Homo sapiens: one gene and its partner. The protein of the gene in region 1 purifies or fractionates together with the protein of each later gene. This does not show direct contact. Each region holds a gene or a part of one and is shown in the gene's direction. Other genes may lie near its edges. The genes, in order: FNBP4 and MTUS1.

Region 1 (4,297 bases):
ATTTTAAAAGATCAAATGCAATTCTACGTGTAAAGTGCTTGGTGACTGACACATAGAGCTCAGTAAGTATTAGATATTTTTAGTGGGAACTGAGCTGCTGCGGATATAAAAATAAATACCACTCGCATTCCTTAGTTTAGAGGGGAGACGGATGTCAACAGGATGTCAAGTGCCAGGGAGAGGCTGGGCAGGAGAGGTCACGCCTGCACTGCGTCTGCATTGCGCCCTGATGAAACAATAAAAGACTTTCATCATGTGATGCAGTAATTATTCCAGTCAGTGCAAAGGAAAAGTGAGGGAGGTGATGCTCCAAGTGGCGGGCTCCAGAGGCAGGAGACGGGAGAGGGGGCAGTGTTAAAGCAAGGGTAAATTAAAGCATGTTGACGATAGTAGTACAAAACTGGTAAGGTTCCTGTATGCCATCCCAACAATTTTAGGCTTTTTCCTTGTAGGTAGTGGAGTATCTCGTGATTTTTCCCAGCTAATAAGCGAGAAAATATGAGACATCTATTTGTGTGCTGCAGGAAATTACAAAAGCGTAAAAGACCCACTGTCCCATTTAATGTTCAATGCTATACCCAAAGTAAGCCACAATAATCCGGGCGAAACGTGGGGAAGGGCTCAGAAAACAGCACACCTTTCTTTTTTTTCTTGAGACAGTCTCACTCTGTCACCCAGGGTGGGGTGCAGTGGCGCGATCTCGGCTCACTGTAACCTTTGCCGCCGGGTTCATGCGATTCGCCTGCCTCAGTCTCCCGACTAGCTAGGATTACAGGCGCCTGCCACCGCGCCCGACTAAATCTTTTGTATTTTTAGTAGAGACGGGGTTTCACCATCTTGGACAAGCTGGTCTTGAACTCCTGACCTCGTGATCCACCCGCCTCGGCCTCCCAAAGTGTTGAGATTACAGGCGTGAGTGAGCTGGGCCCAGCAGCACACCTTTCTAGAAGACAGACAACATGAAACTCTAGGCCGAGAATAGCCACAAGATGGAGGACAAGTAGGCAAAGAAAAGGCTTGGGGAAAGCGCATGGGTGGAACCCGACGGAAGTGGGGAAGTCGTTCTAATTCAGGCCCTACCGCACTATTGGCTGGACTCTCACCCTTTTTCCTTTTCCATTGGCCACCGGTCCCTTCTCTGGGTCAAAACAGCCAATCGCCTAGCGCAGTTGGTAATCCCGCCCTTTCTCCTGGTGAGGAGGAGCCAGAAGAGCCGAAGGGTCCGAGGCGCTTGCGCAAGCGCGTGCTCCGCTGGTTGAAAGCGGATCCGGGCTGGAGGCGGTGTCACGGTGTATGAATATTGATTACGCGTCGCAGCGCCCAGGGCCCAGCGCCCAGCCTCCAGTGCCCGCCCCTCTCGGCCGCCCGACGCTCTCTGCTCGCGCTTGGGCTCGCGATGGGGAAGAAGTCCCGGGCGGTACCCGGCCGTAGGCCCATCCTGCAACTCTCTCCGCCGGGTCCTCGGGGCAGCACGCCGGGCCGGGACCCGGAGCCGGAACCCGACACTGAGCCGGACTCAACCGCGGCGGTCCCCAGCCAGCCCGCCCCGTCGGCGGCGACGACCACCACCACCGCGGTGACTGCCGCCGCGGCCTCGGACGACTCGCCTTCAGAAGGCAAGGGTGCGCGGGGGGACCTGAACTCGAGCTCAGGGCTTGCGGCCTAGGCTCCTCACGGCGCCTGGCCAGACCCGGCGAGGGAGGCGGGCGAGGTCGGCTTCCGAGGCCTGCCTGCTGCGGGCCTGCAGGCGGGGCGGCCCTGGGCTCCGGGCCGCAGAAGGGCCAGGCCGAGTTCTGCGCCCTCGGCCCGGGCCAAGCCCGAGGCGCCATCTGTGGTGCAGGGCTTGCCCCGGGAACGTTTGAAATATGACCGAAGTTCGGGCATCCTGAGTCTCCCAAACGCCCCGGGTCGGTTTTGGGTAACGCAGAGGGTGGATGTGAGGATGAGTTTCCGCGTGCGCGGCCTGTGACTGTGGGCCAGGCCTTTCCACACGTCATCTGCCTCCTTTCGGTTTTGTCGAAACGGGGATAGAGACGTTTAGAAAAAGCTCTTAATATTCCAGCTAGTAAGCATCCCCACACTAGCAGAACTGCTGGAGAAATGGAGCTGGTAGGTTCCTAAGTATTTGTGTGGTTCTCACTGGAGTGGTGCTTAGATTAAAAGTGACTCCAGGACTAGGCGCCGGAGAAGCCGCGACCGTTTCACATGTTCAGAGATCACGCTGGTTCGTTAATTGGAAAAAATCCGCAATAGCAGTGTTTGGTGTGTCTTGTAAAGGTCCTATCATAGCCTGGAGAATACTTACTGTTTTTGTATGTATTTGTAAGTATTGCAGATGTAACTTTTTAAGAGTTTTGTTTTGTTTTTTTCGAGACAATGTCTCAATCTGTCGCCCAGGCTGGAGTGCAGTGGCGCGATCTTGGGCTCACTGCAACCTCCACCTCCCGGGTTCAAGCGATCCTCCCGCCTTAGCCTCCTGGGTAGCTGGGACTACAGGACCCTGCCACCATGCCCGGCTAATTTTTGTATTTTCAGTAGAGACGGAGTTCATGTTTCCCGGGCTGGTCTCGAACTCCAGGGCTCAAGCGATCATTACAGGCGAGAGCCATCGCGCCCGGCCATGCAGATGTATTAATAATTTTTATTTACCATGGTAAGAGTCTTCCCTTGATGTTGAAGTTTGTAAGCAGATGAAAGACTCCAGGGCACGGTGACTCATGCCTGTAATCCCAGCACTTTGGGAGGCCGAGGTAGGCGGATTACTCGAGGTCAGGAGTTTGACCAGCCTGGGCGACAAGAGCGAAACTCCGTCTCAAAAAAAAAAAAAAAAAAAGATTCCAGCTCTGTGTTTATTATCTCCCAATTATTTGGGTCAATGAAATGTCCTTTCTTTTTTTTGAGATGGAGTCTTCCTCTGTGGCCCAGGCTGCAGTAACCTCTGCCTCCTGGGTTCAAGCGATCCTTCTGCCTCAGCCTCCCGAGTAGTTGGGATTACAAGCGAGTGCCATCATGCCTAGCAATTTTTTTATTTTTTGTATTTTTAGTAGAGATGGAGTTTCACCATGGTGGCCAGGCTGGTCTTGAACCCCTGACCTCAAGTGGCCCCCCCCCCCCCCCGTCTTGGCCTCCCAAAGTGCTGGGATTACAGGTGCGAACCCATCCGAAATGCACTTTTTAAAAAATTGATGGAATCTAGAGCTGAAATGTTAAATCAAAGGTTGGTTTGTCACCTCTAGTGTTTTCTCTGGTCTGGAATCTGACTGCAGTTTTCTTTTCTTTTCTTTTCTTTTCTTTTCTTTTCTTTTCTTTTTTTTTAATCCAGATGAACAGGAAGCGGTGCAGGAGGTTCCTAGAGTTGTTCAGAATCCTCCAAAACCAGTCATGACCACTAGACCCACAGCTGTTAAAGCAACAGGTATGCTTTTGTTTTGTTTTTTACATTTTTTCTCCCACGTCTTTCATTAAAGTCAAGTTGGGTTTGTACATAGAATGTTTTGCTGAATGCTTTAGTGTTGCTAACATTATTTCTCCCAAAAATATGATTTAAGATTATTTTTGTTTGTGAGAGAATGTTGATGTATATACACTTTGACCAGTGCAAAATTTGTTGTTTTTCTTTACCCAAAACGTTTTTTACTGTTTTTTTTTCCTGATGCTATTTTATAACTAGTTTTCTGGTCCTCCCACTAGCTTGGTGTTCATTAGGCATGCCAACTCCTATTCCTTTTCTAACACTCTGGCTTGATTGGTTACCTAACAAACATTGGTGGACCTGGAAATTGATCTTATTAAATATTTTCAAGTACAAAGGAATGCCATAGTTGCAACAGTGGTTTTGTAGACAAACCTGGGTTCAATTCATCACTCTGGCATTCACACTTAGACTTTGGCGCAATTACTAATTGGGTTGAACCTCATTAATCTGTAAAATGGATCTTTTATCTCTGAGATATTTCCAGATGTGACATAGTAAGTGCCAGGAATGTTAATTTTCTCTACTCTGTGTATCTTGGAAGAGTAAAATGTGTTTTAATATTAAATATTCTATAATTGGTAGTAATTTCTTTTCAGTTCAGAATACTTTTTGTACTATTTGATGCTTAAAATGATAGATGCTTATTCCTCTCTCCTCACCATTTGCCACCTAAAAAAAAAAAAACAAACAAAACACCCCAGTGTGGGTTAGAAAGCTAAAATTTGAATGTGAGAGAAATTTCAGAACTACATTATACCATTTTGTATTTGCCAACTGCATATGTTATTTCATTTGAGACTTAACACTCATTTAAAATATGTA
Region 2 (4,328 bases), on another chromosome or scaffold:
ATAATCTGACCTATATACCCCTGGGTTTTGTAGTCAGGAAATAATGGATCATTGTACATATGAAAAGTCTTTACAACTATCAATGGCAAGACATCTGTCAGTTATTCTAATATTCATGGTATAGAAAACTGTGAAATACAGAGTCCTTACGTCTATTCTCCAAAAAAGTTCACTTCTCTTTAAAAGCTTTTAGCAAACCACAATCCAGGTAATTAAAAAGGAAATATTAAAATTTTGTTCTCAGGTTGTCTGACATTTCACGGTTCAGCAATGTGACATCTCTCACAGGCAGAATAGCATCTTCGGACAAGTTTTCTATTAAAAATATGCTTTATAGAAGAAAATATTTTACGGACCTAGAAGACAGCTGTCGATGAAATTTGCTCAGTTTAGCAAACAGCAAGGACTGTGTTTGTGTTTAGAGAAAAGTAGGTCGAGCCTAGTTTATCTCCCTGGGGTTCTAGACTCCTTTCCACGTTGTATCTCAAGCTCTAATAGCTGGAAAGCTACTTTCTTTAACCTTTAATACACACTTGCTAGTAAACTTGCTAGAAGCATGAAGATAATACAGACTGCGAATCAGCCCTTCTAAGAGACAATCACGACTCCTTCCTTGCAAGCTTCCGCCCTGATAATTCTGCAACCTTCCCACCTTCTATACGCCCCGCGGTGCGAGGCCCCTCGGCCTGCAGGTGGCCAGAGGCAAGCAGGAGTCAGATCCCCCACCTACCGCGGCCCGGCCTGGGCCCTAGCGCTGGGTGCGGCGGAGCCCCGGGCTCCTGCGGGGACGAGCGTGGTCCCGGGACGCGCGGTGCAGCCAGGTGCGCCGGCGGCAGTGGCAGCCGCTGAGCGCCGCGTCGCACGTGGCAACAGGTGCAGCGCTGTCCCGGGCTGGCGCCGGGGGGCGTGGGGCGCGTCCGCACTTAGTCCGGGAGCGCGCGGAGCGTCGGGATTGGGACCCGAGAGCGGGAGCGGAGAGCGGGAGCGCCCGAGCGGAGTCCAGCGCCCCGAGGTACGGCCTCGCACGTCATTCAGGTTCCCCGAGGGCCGTCCCCTGGGACGGCGGCTGGCCTTGGTCTCCCGCAGCGAGCCGCTGGAGTGGAGCCTTCGGAAGGAGCCGCCCCGGGTTGGGGCGGGAGGCCCGAGTTCGGCTATTTACAAGTTTCCCGAACTCCCCGCCCTGCTCCACCCCCTGGCGGCCCCGGAGGCGGGGAGGCGGGGAGGCCGGGGCTCCGGGTCCCGCCTGGTAGCCGCCGCAGGCGTGGGGTGGTGCCGCGCCGCGCGCCCCCAGGTGCAGACGCCGCCCCCGAGACCTCCGGGGCGGGTTCTCGGCGACCCCGCCAGTGGTGCAAAGGGCGCCAGCCCTCCCCGCCTCTGCGTCTTTGCTCCCGGAGCGCTTGAAGGAGCTGCGGGTAAGTGCGCGCTGGAATCTGTTCCCGCTGCCCGGCGGCCGGGGTGGGGAGGGGACAGGCGAGCGCGCCGCCCAGGGTGACGGGACCGGTCCTCGGGGAGGGGAGGGGGCGTTCCAGGGGCCTGGGGGCCGAAGCTGAGGGCTAAAGGGGGCGGCAGCGCCGGCGGAGCGGAGGCGGGTCTCACGTGGGCCAGCGCAGAGCCTGCGGAAGGGACGGATGCGGATCTCGTCGCTGTCACCTTGAAAGTGACCGAGGGGCTTGACTGTGGACTCCTTACGCCGCCCACCCGGGCCCGGCGGTCCCAGCCTTCTCGCAGGGCCCCTTCTCAGCAGAAGCAAGCGGGGCCGAGAAAGCGGGTGGAATAGGGTTGCTGCAGGTCCCAAAGACCCCTCGTGGCGCCTCGCTACTTTCTGCAGCTTGTTTGCACTTTTTCACGCTCTAGAAAAATCTCATCTTAATTAAGGTGACCTTATTGACTACTCTATAGTGCTTAGTGGACTTAGGTGTTCACTGAGGAACGTTTTTGTTCTTTTTTGAAGACGTACTCCTTTCTACCAAGTTGTTTGTTGATTTTTGACTTGGAGTAATTTGGGACTAGGAAGGAAGAGGTTAATTCATTTAGCCTGCGTAGTTACACATACTCTGTTAAATACTGTTTGTTTGAAGTAGTCAGTGTTCTAAGAAAGGAAATCCAGTGTGTTTTGTTTGTTTCAATGAAACCAAAGTCTTAGGCAAAACGGTGCGTGGAAGCTTTCAAGTTTTGCCAGGTGCAGGTGATCGAAAGTCAATCATCACTAAATCACAGCGCTGGGGCTGGAGGGTGGGAGTAGGGGTGTTACCAGTGAATTTCAGGAGGAAGGGAGGCAATGCAGGAGGGAGGGGATTAAAAAAGAGAGTCATTGCTTCCTGGGAACCAGTGACCTCTTTAAGGAGGGTATATACAAGATAACAGTGCATGGACAACTTTAAAAGGAATTGCATAAACGGAATTGCAATTCTGTAGACAGTTTGCTTTTTCAGGGATGGTTAGGGCAGGAAATGATACACAACTTAAAATGGTGATGTCCTGTTAGTACAGTGCTTTACAGTGTAGAAAGTGCTGTTACAGATTTTTTTTTTTTCATAGGCAATATATTCCATTAGGAAAGCTATACAAAGAAAAGATTAGAACTACATGCTTATCCTTAAAACCAAAGCTAAAAAACCTTAGAAGTGGAATTTAGTTTAAAATAATATGTAGTTATTTATGTAACTTGCACCACGTTTTTTCACCTGTTCTTTTTAAAATCAGGTTTATGAAGAGAAAATAATTCTTGGTAAATCTGCTTGGTAGAAAATCATGCTTGGAACAAGACCTTTTAATTATGTCAATAAGTCAAGGTTACATTTTGGAGTATAATAGGATTATAAGATTCTAGATAATATCTTATATTTTTTGGAAACTAACCTGCAGTTATTACACTCAAGCATTTAAAAAGCCTGTTACTTAATAGCCCTGTTCTGTTAACCCTGTTTGTTTTGATTTCAAAAGTAATCCGTGCTTGCTGTATAAAAATAGGTAGATTGAGAAAAGTGAGTTAAGCAATTTCAGCAAAGATAATCACAGTTAATATTTAAGAAAATACTTGTTAATATATAGAAAAATTTTTTATAGTTATATAGTTTATCTAAATATACTATTGCGTGGAGGTTTTTTCCTGATTAATGTATCATGAAAAATTTTCCATGTCATGAAATCTTCAGAAATCTTAGTGGCTACTTAATATTACATTACATAGATGTATCAAACTGGTTTTCATTTATTTCCACTTACTAAATATACTTTTGCAACAAATACGTTTTTAAAACTTTATGTGCAGGGTTAATATCCTTAGTGCCCTTGAAATACAGTTGATGGTTGGAAGATCTCCTCATACATATTGACCATTTGCTTTCCAAAAAATGTTTAACCAAATTATGTTCCCACCAGCTCTCTGTGAGAATACTGGTGTTACCGTATTCTTGTCAACATGTAGAATCATCCTTAAAGGGAAAAAAAAAAAATTCTTCCCAGGTTTATAGGTGAACAGTGCTTTCTCTATATTTAAACTTCAATTTCTTTGATTACAGATGATTTGAACACCAAAGAAATCTAGTTGTTTTCCATTTTGAAATTTGATGTAGTGCCAGATTTTTCTCCTGGGATATTAGTATTTTTCCATTAATTCATAAGAGCCTTTTATGGATTGATAGTAAATCTTTGCCATTCATATTGCAGATACTTTTCCCATTTTATCTTTGCTTTATATATTTACAGTAGTTTTGACATACACAAATTTCTTTAATGTTGATAAATCTGTTGACTTTCTCAAAACAGAATTTTTAACACTTCTAAATCGTAGCTTCAGAACTATATGTGACTGTGGTAGAAGATTTAAAAAAAATTTTCCAGCCGGGTGCGGTGGCTCACGCCTCTAATCCCAGCACTTTGGGAAGCCAAGGCGGGCGGATCAGGAGGTCAGGGGTTCGAGACCAGCCTGGGCAACATGGTGAAACCCCGTCTCTACTAAAGATACAAAAAATTAGTCAATTGTGTTGGCATGGATCTGTAATCTCAGCTACTTGGGACGCTGAGGCAGGAGAAGCGCTTGAACCCGGGAGGTGGAGGTTGCAGTGAGCCGAGATCACTCCAGTGCACTCCAGCCTGGGCAACAGGGCAAAACTCCATCTTAAAAAAAAAAAATTCCCCAAATTCTAAATTAGAATCTTTTCAAATTCATTGCAAGAACTTCCATATCTTGGGTTAGAGACTGTTGCAAAACTAATTGCATTTGTTGATGAGAAGCCACTGGGCCTGGTATATACTATTAGGAACAACATCCTTTGAAATCAGAGCAGAAAGTTTTAAATCCCTAAGACTGAATGTTTTTCAGATCT

Evidence for each region.
Region 2: the proteins of FNBP4 (region 1) and MTUS1 purify together in Homo sapiens (affinity purification with mass spectrometry; one large-scale study listed by BioGRID and IntAct). This does not show direct contact.

The regions. Positions count from the first base shown.
Region 1 is NC_000011.10:47,764,388-47,768,684, reverse strand, and holds the start of FNBP4 (formin-binding protein 4), read left to right. Parts: upstream 1-1,343; 5' UTR 1,344-1,396; coding exon 1,397-1,616; coding exon of another isoform or gene 1,617-1,622; intron 1,623-2,064; exon of another isoform or gene 2,065-2,109; intron 2,110-3,322; coding exon 3,323-3,415; intron 3,416-4,297.
Region 2 is NC_000008.11:17,798,145-17,802,472, reverse strand, and holds the start of MTUS1 (microtubule-associated tumor suppressor 1), read left to right. Parts: upstream 1-1,378; 5' UTR 1,379-1,412; intron 1,413-1,555; exon of another isoform or gene 1,556-1,875; intron 1,876-4,328. UniProt on the Homo sapiens protein: Cooperates with AGTR2 to inhibit ERK2 activation and cell proliferation. May be required for AGTR2 cell surface expression. Together with PTPN6, induces UBE2V2 expression upon angiotensin-II stimulation.